2 separate regions of the Homo sapiens genome follow, and region 1 is linked to region 2. The links come from fine-mapping of genetic effects on gene expression. A gene starts in region 2. The other region holds a variant in brackets. All regions are shown on one strand. Distances are between the middles of the regions. Region 1 overlaps CYRIB (CYFIP related Rac1 interactor B). Region 2 holds the start of GSDMC (gasdermin C).

Evidence for each region. PIP is the estimated chance that this variant, and not a neighbour inherited with it, causes the effect. A credible set is the group of variants that fine-mapping cannot tell apart.
Region 1: its variant is the best candidate, but not a certain one, in a credible set for the expression of GSDMC in spleen (GTEx, PIP 0.87).

The regions. Positions count from the first base shown.
Region 1 is chr8:129,962,023-129,967,410 of GRCh38, forward strand. All of the region lies in intron 2 of CYRIB (CYFIP related Rac1 interactor B), which reads right to left. Among named protein-coding and RNA genes, the nearest start is that of MIR5194, 44 kb to the right of the region's middle. RefSeq lists a silencer at 627-827. The variant G/C (reference allele first, on the strand shown) is at 2,571.
Region 2 is chr8:129,783,942-129,789,329 of GRCh38, forward strand. It overlaps GSDMC (gasdermin C), which reads right to left and starts at 2,683. Exons shown (of 14, transcript NM_031415.3): 1 at 2,070-2,683.

The DNA.
Region 1 (5,388 bases), 180 kb after region 2:
GAGGATGGCTTGAGCCCAAGAGTTCAAGACCAGCCTGAGCAACATGGGAGACCCCTTCTCTAAACATACAAAAAATTAGCCACGCATGGTGCTGCTTGCCTGTGGTCCCAGCTACTCGGGGAGGCTGAGGTGGATCACCTGAGCCTGGGAAGTCAAGGCTGCAGTGAGCCATGATTGCGCCACTGCACTCCAGCCTGGGCAACAGAGTGAAACCCTGTTTAAAAAAAAAGAAAGAAAGAAAGAACAAAAGAAAGAAGGACAGAAAAAGAAAAAAAATTAGCTAGGTGTGATGTGTGCCTGTAGTCCCAGATACTCAGGAGGGAGGCAGGATGATTGCTTGAGCCTGGGAGACTGAGGCTGCAGTAAGCTAGAATCATACCACTGCACACCAACCTGGGCCACAGAGCAAGGCCTTGTCTCAAAAAAATGAAATAACATAAATTAAAATAAAAATAAACGTGGGGTGATGTCAATTAAAGTGTCTAGCCCAGCATCTATGGCATAAAATAGGGACCCAGAAAATGTCCCTTCCCTATGAATGCCCTTTACGTTTGGAAACAGCTATCATATGTCTCCCCTGTCTCCTATTTCTTGTTAAATATTTCAGCTAATTTAATGGTATCCTTAAATGACTTGATTTCAGAGCCCTCTTCTATCCCTCCCCTCTGCAAAGTCTCCATCTGTTAAAACCCCACTCGGGGTATTGCATAACCAGCTCGCAGAATCAGCAGCACGCTCCTGTTTGCTCATTCATCTGTTAATTCATTCACTGAGTAAACACTGATTAAAAACCTACTATATTGGACATCCTTGGCTTTTGCCTACCCACCATTCACAAACGGTACCCGCATTTCCCTGGAAACCTGCAATCTTTCCCTCATTCTCAGTCTCTGTACCTGAGCAGGTGCAAGCTGCACCCAATCTCCCTCAGGGGGAGGGCATTTGATCCAAGATGGCCAATCAGAGCGTCGCATTTGCCTGCCACAGCGATTGGTTCAGGGCTGTGCATGTTACCCAGAAAAGACCAATCAGAAAGACAGTTGGACTCAGTTCTAAGACTTGTTGAACTACTGGAACAGTGGCCTTTTTTTACCTCCTGCTAGAACCGCTGACAACCATTTTGGACCACAATCCACAAGAAAAGGGAGGCAGCGTTAAAGATGGTGAAAAACTGTGTAAGCCTTGGCAACACTTTAAGCCTTGGATCCTCCAGGCCTTATGTTTCACTCCTAGATTCTTCAATTACATAAACCAACAAATCCCCTTTCTGCGGAAGCCAGTTCGAGGCGAGATTCTGTTTCAAGGTCGACAGAATCCTGACTAATGAAATCCGAAGTGCTGTGGTGTATGCTGCATGCTGGCTATACACAGATGAAGCAAGGTGATCCATACCATCCTTCCAGGCACTCACAGGCTGATGTGGAGACAGCCACAAACAATTACAGCTATTTAAAGCCAATAAGATAACTGCTTTAATTAAATACTACACAGTGCAATATGAGCACAGCAAAGCACCTGGGTCCAGGAAGGCCTCACAGAGCAATGGCGATTAAACCTATTCCCTCTCTCTATTCAGGCAGTGAAGATGGAATTACTAGTTGGAGGAGTCAGATAACACTGTTGATTCACATTCATCTTACAGTAAACTAAAACCATTACATCCCACGTTGCACAGAAGGGCGATGATACTTAAAGCTCTTAACAGCTCTCTCTGAGCCTACAAAATACTGTCTCAAGAGACCAGCAAAGTGCTAAGGTCAAATAACTCTCACTTGCAAGTGTTTCATCTGAATTGTGCAGATAATGGAACGCTCTTAAATACTACCCAGGTCAGTTTTTGTGATTTTGATTCCATACGCTTAAATTTTCATTCCATCCTTCTTGACCATTTGGATTTCTTGTCCATTTGTGTGCTGATCACATCACAACAGCATCAAAACAGCCCTTTCAAGATGAATAACCTACTTACTGAATTTATTTCCAGATGATCAAGGGAAGGGGAAGAGAGAAAGTCTCTGGTTCTATAAAACATTTCCTGATGGGTTAGAAATGTGGCTGATTGCAGAAAACAACAATAACAACAATAAAAAGCACCTCTGGGAACATCTGTTTTGAGAAGAAAGGCCCCTAAAGGTCAGTCTTTTTAAGTGAACAGAAGCTGGTGTCTCTTAGTCCTTTGATGATGCATACTCAACGGGAAAGTTGTAAAGATAAAATAATTCAGGAAACGAGGACATCGCAGGACAAATTCTCCTTGCCTTTATTGTTTCTAAACACATCAGCAATTCATGTGGTCCAGAAACACAAGCTACAGCTTTCCAGAACAAAGAATCTTACAGTTGGAAAAATTAGTACTGACTGAATACTTCCATGTGGACTCAAGAGAGGTGCCAGGGACTAGTGTCAGGAGAGACGAAGTTAAGATGCCTCTCAGATAACTCAGATTTCTATGAAGCAGCTGGGTTACCCGTTTCCAAAACACCTTGCAGGCCGTCATGGAATTTCCCTTCCTCTACCTGCATGCCACAGGACTTTGCACAACAAAGGTACCATCCATTTTCTTGAAAATG[G/C]GATTATCGGGCCAAGCACAGTGGCTCACACCTGTAATCCCAGCACTTTGGGAGGCCAAGTCAGGAGGATCACTTGAGCCCAGGAGTTCAAGACCAGCCTGGGCAAGATAGGGAGGCCCCTGTCTCTACAAAATGAAAAAAGTGAGCCAGGCGTGGTGGCACATGCCTGTAGTCCCAGCTACTCAGGAGGCTGAGCCTGGGAGGTCGAGGCTGCAGTGAGCCGTGATCGTGCCACTGCACTTCAGCCTGGGTAGTCAAGCAAAAGTCTGCCTCCAAAGAAATAAAGAAAAAGGAAAAGAAAATGAGATTTGTCATTTATCACACATTTACTGGGCAGCTCTGTAGTCCAGGTATCAGCAGGCAATGGAGAGAACTCCAGTGTTATGGATGTGTGAGGACACCTCCTCACATCCTTACCCGTGTGATCTGTCTTACCTGTGAGCAGATAACACAGGGAACTGCCTGTTGCTTGGCAAATGCTCAATAAATGTTGGTTTCCCATGGGGCATATGCAACCCCACCAAGGGGACCTGCCAAATCTCCTCTATAAACATTCAAAGAAACATAAAAGGACACATAGCAGGATATCTTCCACCCACCCAAGACCCACAATCCCCTAAGCTTTTCCAAGAGATATACAGAATTCCCCCAGACACTGTGTGTGTGTGTGTGTGTGTGTGTGTGTGTCCTTCCAGCAATCGCCCAGGCATAATCAAGCATGAGTATGTGTGTGGGTGGGTGTGTATAAACACTTATACCCTCTTCTTGTTTTCCTACATCTGGCAGCATACCACATATACTTTCCTGCAAATTGCTTTATTCTTAAACTTAAGAATATATCCTGAAAATCATTCCTTCTTAGCAGATATGACCTACTATTTTAAACAATGGCGGAGCAATCCACTTTAAGAATATACATTCAGGCCGGGCGCGGTGGCTCACGCCTGTAATCCCAGCACTTTGGGAGGCCGAGGCGGGCGGATCACAAGGTCAGGAGATCGAGACCGTCCTGGCTAACACGGTGAAACCCTGTCTCTACTAAAAATACAAAAAATTAACCGGGCGTGGTGGTGGGTGCCTGTAGTCCCAGCTACTTGGGAGGCTGAGGCAGGAGAATGGCATGAACCCAGGAGGCAGAGCTTGCAGTGAGCTGAGATCGCGCCACTGCACTCCAGCCTGGGCGACAGAGCAAGACTCTGTCTCAAAAAAAAAAAAGAATATACATTCAATCAATTCGCTACTTTTTGTTTTTTGGAGTTTTGTTTGTTCATTTTTTGAGGCAGAGTCTTGCTCTTGTCACCGAGGCTGGAGTGCAGTGGTGCAGTCTCGGCTCACTGCAGCCTCCGCCTCCCAGATTCAAGCTATTCTCCTACGTCGGCTTCCCGAGTAACTGGGATTACATACAGGTGTGGGCCACAACACCCAGCTAATTTTTGTATTTTTTGGTAGAGACACAGTTTCTACCATGTTGGTCAGGCTGGTCTCAAACTCCTGGCCTCAAGTGATCTGCCTACCTCGGCTTCCAAAGTGCTGATTATAGGCATGAGCCAATGCGCCCAGCCTAAATCAATTCCTTATTGACATACATTAAGTTGCTTCCACAGTCTTTCTATTACTAGCAATGCTGCAATGAGTATATGTTACATGCATCTTCACACACATTTATAACTATAGGAAACATAGAATTTATAAGAGAAAATCCTTGAAGCAGAATTGCAGGATCAGAGGGTATGTGCACTCAGAATGGTGCCAAATGGCCCTCCAAAGAAGTTGTACTAATTTTCACTCTCATCAGTAGTAGAATGAGTATGCCTGTTTCTCCAACCACAGTCACAAAAGGTTGTTTTGTTTTTAAATACAAAAGAAGAAAGGCAGAGCTCACTCTTGTCCCATTGTCTCTTCTTGCCCCTGTGATATCATTAATGACATGACTACTTCTTAAAAATTCCACACCTGGATGCAAAACCCAGAGATCAAAGTTTAAAAAAGGCCAGGCGCAGTGGCTCATGCCTGTAATCCTAGCACTTTGGGAGGCCAAGGCAGGAGGATCACTTGAGTCCAGGAATTCAAGACCAGCCTCTATAAAAAATAAATTTTACTTTATTTTTAAATTTTTAATTAATTATTTTTAGATAGGGCCTCACTCCATGGCCCAGGCTGGAGTGCAGAGGACCAATTCTGGCTCACTGCCACCTGGGTTCAAACAATCCTCCCACCTCAGCCTCCCAGGTAGCTGGGAATACAGGTGCATACCACCACACCCAGCTAATTTATATTTTTTTTGTAGAAACAGGGTTTCGCCATGTTGCCCAGGCTGGTCTTAAACTCCTGAGCTCAAGTGATCCTCCCACCTTGGCTTCTCAAAATGCTGGGATTGCAGGCATAAGCCACCAAGCACAGACAAAAATAAATTTTTTTAAAAATTATCCATGAGTGTTTTTTAAAAAATTAGTGCAGTGGCCCATAATCACTTCACTGCACTCAAGCCTGGGCAACAGAGCGAGGCCCTACCTCAAAAATAAAAAAACAACAACAAACAGAGTTTAAAATAAAATGAATGCCAAAGGCAGTGGTGTTCTGAAGGTGGCTATACTGACTCAAGAGTCCTAACCATGTTCATTTCTTCCAAACTCCGTGTTCAGTGGCATCATGTTGGTAGCTTGAAACTGGTCATGGTGGAAGTATTTACACCATAGGAATCAGCAAATGCTACAAATTAGGGCTTCTTTTCTTTTCTTTCTTCTTTTTCTTTTCTTTGGTTTTGTTTTGTTTTGTTTTGTTTTTTTGTTTTTTTGTTTTTTTTTTGAGATGGAGTCTT
Region 2 (5,388 bases):
CCTACAGTGAGCTCATTTTTTACCAAGGTGCCAAGAACATACATTAGAGAAAGGACAGTCTCTTCAATAAATGGTGCTGGGAAACCTGGATATTCATATGCAGGAGACTGAAACTAGACCACTCTCTCTCATCATGTACAAAAATAAAATCAAAATAGATTATAGACTTCAATGTAAAGCCTCAAACTGTGAAACTACTACAGGAAAACACTGGGGAAACTCTCCAGGACATTGGTCTAGGCAAAAATTTCTTAAGTAATACACCACCAGCACAGGCAACCAAAGCAAAAATAGACAAATTGGATCTCATCAAGTTACAAAGCTTCCCTCCAGCAAAGGAAAAGATCAACAACAGAAAAAGAGAACCCACAGAATGGGAGAAAATATTTGCAAACTTCCCATCTGATAAGGGAATAATAACCAGAAAATATAAGGAGCCCACACAACTCTATAGGAAAAAAATCTAATAATCAGATTAAAATATGGGCAAAAGAGTTGAATAAACATTTCTCAGAGGAATACATACAAATGAAAAAAAGGCATATGAAAAGGTCCTCAACATTATTAGTTATCAGAAAAATGTAAATCAAAACTACAATGAGATATCATCTCACCCCTGTTAAAATGGCTTATATCTAAAAGACAAGTAATAAAAAATGCTGGAGAGAAGGTAGAGAAAAGGGAAACTTGTACCCTGTTTGTGGGAATGTAAATTAGTACAGCCACTATGGAGAACAGTTTGGACCTTCCTCAAAAAGCTAAAAATAGAGCTGCCATACAACCCAGCAACCTCTCTGCTGGGTGTACACCCAAAAGAAAGAAAACCAGTATATTGAAGAGATATCTTCACTCCCATGTTTGTTGCAGCACTGTTCACAATAGCCAAGATTGGGAAGCAATGCAAGTGTCCATCAACAAATGAACAGGTAAACAAAATGTGGTACATATACATAACAGAGTACTACTCAGCCATAAAAAAGAATGAGATTGGCTGGGTGCGGTGGCTCATGCCTGTAATCCCAGCACTTTGGGAGGCTGAGGCGGGTGGATCAACTGAGGTCAGGAGTTCAAGACCAGCCTGACCAACATGGAGAAACCCCGCTCTACTAAAAATACAAAATTAGCCAGGCATGGTAGCGCATGACTGTAATCCCAGCTACTTGGGAGGCTGAGGCAGGAGAATCACTTGAACCCAGGAGGCGGAGGTTGCAGTGAGTCGAGATTGCACTGTTGCACTCCAGCCTGGGCAACAAGAGCAAAACTCCGTGTCAAAAAAAAATGAGATCCTGTCATTCGCAACAACATAGAGGGGACTAGAGGTCATTAAGTGAAATAAGCCAGGCACAGAAAGACAAACTTTACAATGTTCTCACTTATTTATGAAAGCTAAAAATTAAGACAATTGAAGTTATGGAGATAGAGTAAAATGATGGTTACCAGAGGCTGGGAAAGATATTAGGGGGTGGGAGGGAGGTGGGGATGGTAAATGAGCACAAAAAAAATAGTTAGACTGAATAAGATCTAGTATTTCTGAATAAGATCTAGTATTCGATAGCACAACAGGGTGACTATAGTCAATAATTGTACAGTTAGAAATAACTAAAACAGTATAATTGTATTGTTACAATTAAGAGTATAATTGTATTGTTACAATTATAACAAATAGGAATAGGACTTCCTAACTACATGGAATTCAGTTTTTGAACTTTCTAAATATGTTCAATAATGAAGAGAGACAGAATTTTCAACAGTTCATGTAAAATTCCTGATGTGACCATTTCAATTCTCTGATATGGGCCATGTAAGAGGTCACTGGACAAGCAGAGAATAATGAGAATATAAGATGCTTCTTTAAGACTGGACCTGTGCAATAATGTATCGAAGATATATTCCTTAGCCTTACATGCTATCAGGAATTCTCCATTATTAAGACGAACTTAACTTCCTTTTCAGTCAAATTCTGTAGGAAAAAAAACTCTTCGACTCATTTCACAAACCCATCCAGAACATTTTTGTCGCTGATGATAGTAATCTTTTCTTTTTCATCCCCTGATCCCATTAGGACTTACCAGATTATATATCCCTTTGTCCTGTAGAGAAATAGCAGGATTGGCCGGGCACGGTGGCTCACGTCTGTAATCCCAGCACTTTGGGAGGCTGAGGCCGGTGGATCACGAGGTCAGGAGTTCAAGATCAGCCAGGCCAAGATGGTGAAACCCTGTCTCTACTGAAAATACAAAAATTAGCCAGGAATGGTGGCAGGCACCTGTAATCCCAGCTACTTGGGAGGCTGAGGCAGAGAACTGCTTGAACCCGGGAGGCAGAGGTTGCAGTGAGCTGAGACCATGCCGCTGCACTCCAGCCTGGGCAACTCCGTCTCAAAAAAAAAAAAAAGAGAGAAAAATAGCACAATTGAGTAGGGCCCCTTCCAATCTTCAGACCTCCTGCGGTCAAGTAGAAATTGTCAGACAAACTCCAGGACCAGATCAATGTGATTCTGTTCACTGTTCTCTTCTCACCAATGGGTCCCTGACTCAATTTCCAATGCAGTATCCTGGAAAAATAAGCACAGGAGGGCCCTGTTCATTTCCAGAAGAGTAAGTCTGGAACTAGTTCTGGATCACAGAACCTTAGCTCTCAAGTCCTCAGCAAAAAGTCTGTGGAACAAAATCAAGTGGCATCTAATTATGTATCTCCTGAATCAGAATTAAAAAGGCTTCCTCAGAGTCACACCCATTTCCTTTCACATACAGAACTAGCTGAGCAAGTCTTTGATTCATGGATTCCCAGCAACTCTAGCTGGAACAACTTCTTTGGCTCGTATTCCTCTGGTATATGTGCTGAATTTAGAATTCAATCACTGGACACCAGGAAAGGCAACTTCAGCAGGAGGGACAGGCACTAGCGCCAGGGCCCTGGGAAGCACCTCTGAACTGCCTACATGTGGGGCTCTGTACAACAGGAATTACTGTGCTTAATGCCTCCTCTGTGTTAAGCACCATGCATGTATTATCTAAATCCAATCTTACAACAATCTTTATTTTAAATATAAATAAAAAGGGGATTTGTGAAAGGAATTAAAAACTTGCCTGAAACCCATGTCCTTTCCAATTACTCCCTATGGGTTTCAAGATGAAGTAAAGTGCCTATAGGAGCAGAAACTGTATAAACAGGATTGCTACACCTTTAAGTTTTGAGTAACTTCCTGGAACTGACACTCAATACAGCAACATTCCTTTCAGCTGACAGTATTTCACAATGCATTTACTTTACTTTTGTTTTCTTTTAATATTCATAAAAGTCTTATGCCTTCCCTTTCCACTGTAAGAACCTGATATGCACTTCACTTGGGACAAAGCTCAGACTGTGCTTTCTGCATATCACCACCAGACACGATGTTCCAAATTAACTTTCACGTTCTATAATTTCCATTGTAAAAACTATAGACTTGAAATATAAAATTATAATTACATACATAACCCTTCTGTGTACCAACATTCTATAGGCCCCAACCTGCTATTGGGTATTCCAGAAGTCGGAGAAAAGTAACTTAGCTGTTTGGGAACAGTTATGTGAGTCACACCAACCTAAATAACAGATAAAGAAAAGCTCTCTAAAAGACAGTGATATTTATTCAAGAATGAGCATTGCAATGGGAATATGCGTGCCATCACAAACTATGTGTGTATTCAGACAGGTAAGGGAAGAAAAAAGTTTTAAAAAGAAAAATAAGAAGGATTACACAATTGTTTTGAATCAATTCTTTGCTTACAAGGATCAGTAACAAAGGTGGCACCAGTCCAAGGTTAGACAGGCAGTTGGTGGACAGATGTCCTGGCAGAAGTATTTTTTGTTTAAGGTTGCAATAGCCTTTGTGCAAAGCTGTAGTTTTTAGTTTTGTTTTGTCTTTAATTTTTATGGGTACATAGATGTATATATTTATTTATGGGATATATGGGATATTTTAATACAGGCATACAATGTATAATAATCACACCAGGGTAAATGAGGTATCTATCATCTCAGATATTTATTTTTTGTGTTAAAATATTATACTCTTTTAGTTATTTTTAAATGTACAATTAAATTATTATTGACTATAGTCAATAATATATTGTGCTATCAGACATTAGATCTTATTCCTTCTAAATCTTTTTGTACTCATTAACCATTCCCCCTACCCCTGCACACCCACCCCACTACCCTTCCTAGCGTCTGGTAACCATCATTCTATTCTCTATCTCCGTAAGTTCAGTTGTTTTAATTTTTAGCTTTCACAAATAAGAGAGAACATGTAAAGTTTGTCTTTCTGTGCTTGGCTTATTTCACTTAACATAATGACCTCCAGTTCCATCTATGTTGTTGCAAATGACAGGATCTCATTCTTTTTATGGCTGAATAGTACTCCATTATGTATACGTACCATTTTTTTTATTCATTCATTTGTTGATGGACACTTGGATTGCTTCTAAATCTTGGCTATTGTGAGTGGAACTGCAATAAACATGGGAGTGCAGATATCTCTTCAATATATTGATTTCCTATTTTGGAGGTATATACTTAACAGTGGGTTTGCTGGATCATACGATAGTTCTATTTTCAGTTTTTCTGAGGAAGGCCCAAACTGTTCTCCATAGTAGTTGTACTAATTTACATTCCCACAAACAGTGTCCAAGGGTCCCCTTTTCTCCACATCCTCTCCAGCCTGTTATTGCCTGTCTTTTGGGTAAAATCCATTTTAACAGATGTGAGATGATATCTCATTGTAGTTTTGAATGGTGTTTCTCTGATGATCAATAATGTCGAGCACATTTTCATATGCGTGTTTGCCATTTGTATGTCGTCTTTCAAGAAATGTCTATTTAGAACTTTTGCCCATATTTTAATTAGTTTATTAGATTTTTTCCTGTATAATTGTTTGAGCTCCTTGTGTGTTCTGCTTACAAATCCTTTGTCAGATGCTTAGTTTGCAAATATTTTCTCCCATTCTTTGGGTTTTCTTCTTCTGTTGTTGATTGTTCTTTGCTGGAAGGAAGCTTTTTACTTTGATATGGTTGCATTTGTCCATTTTTGTTTTGGCTGCCTGTGCTTGTGGGGTATTACTCAAGAAATGTTTGCCCATTCCAATGTCCTGGAGAGTTTCCCCAATGTTTTATTGTAGTAGTTTCATAATTTGAGTCCTTAGATTCAATTATTTAATCTATTTTAATTTAGTTCTTGTATATAGTGAGAGATAAGGGTCTAGTTTCAGTCTTCTACGTGTGGATATCTAGTTTTTGCAACACCATTTATTGAAGAGACTGTCTTTTCCCCAATGTATAGTCTTGGCACCTTTGTAAAAAATGAGTTCACTGTAGGTGTATGGATTTGTTTCTGGGTTCTCTATTC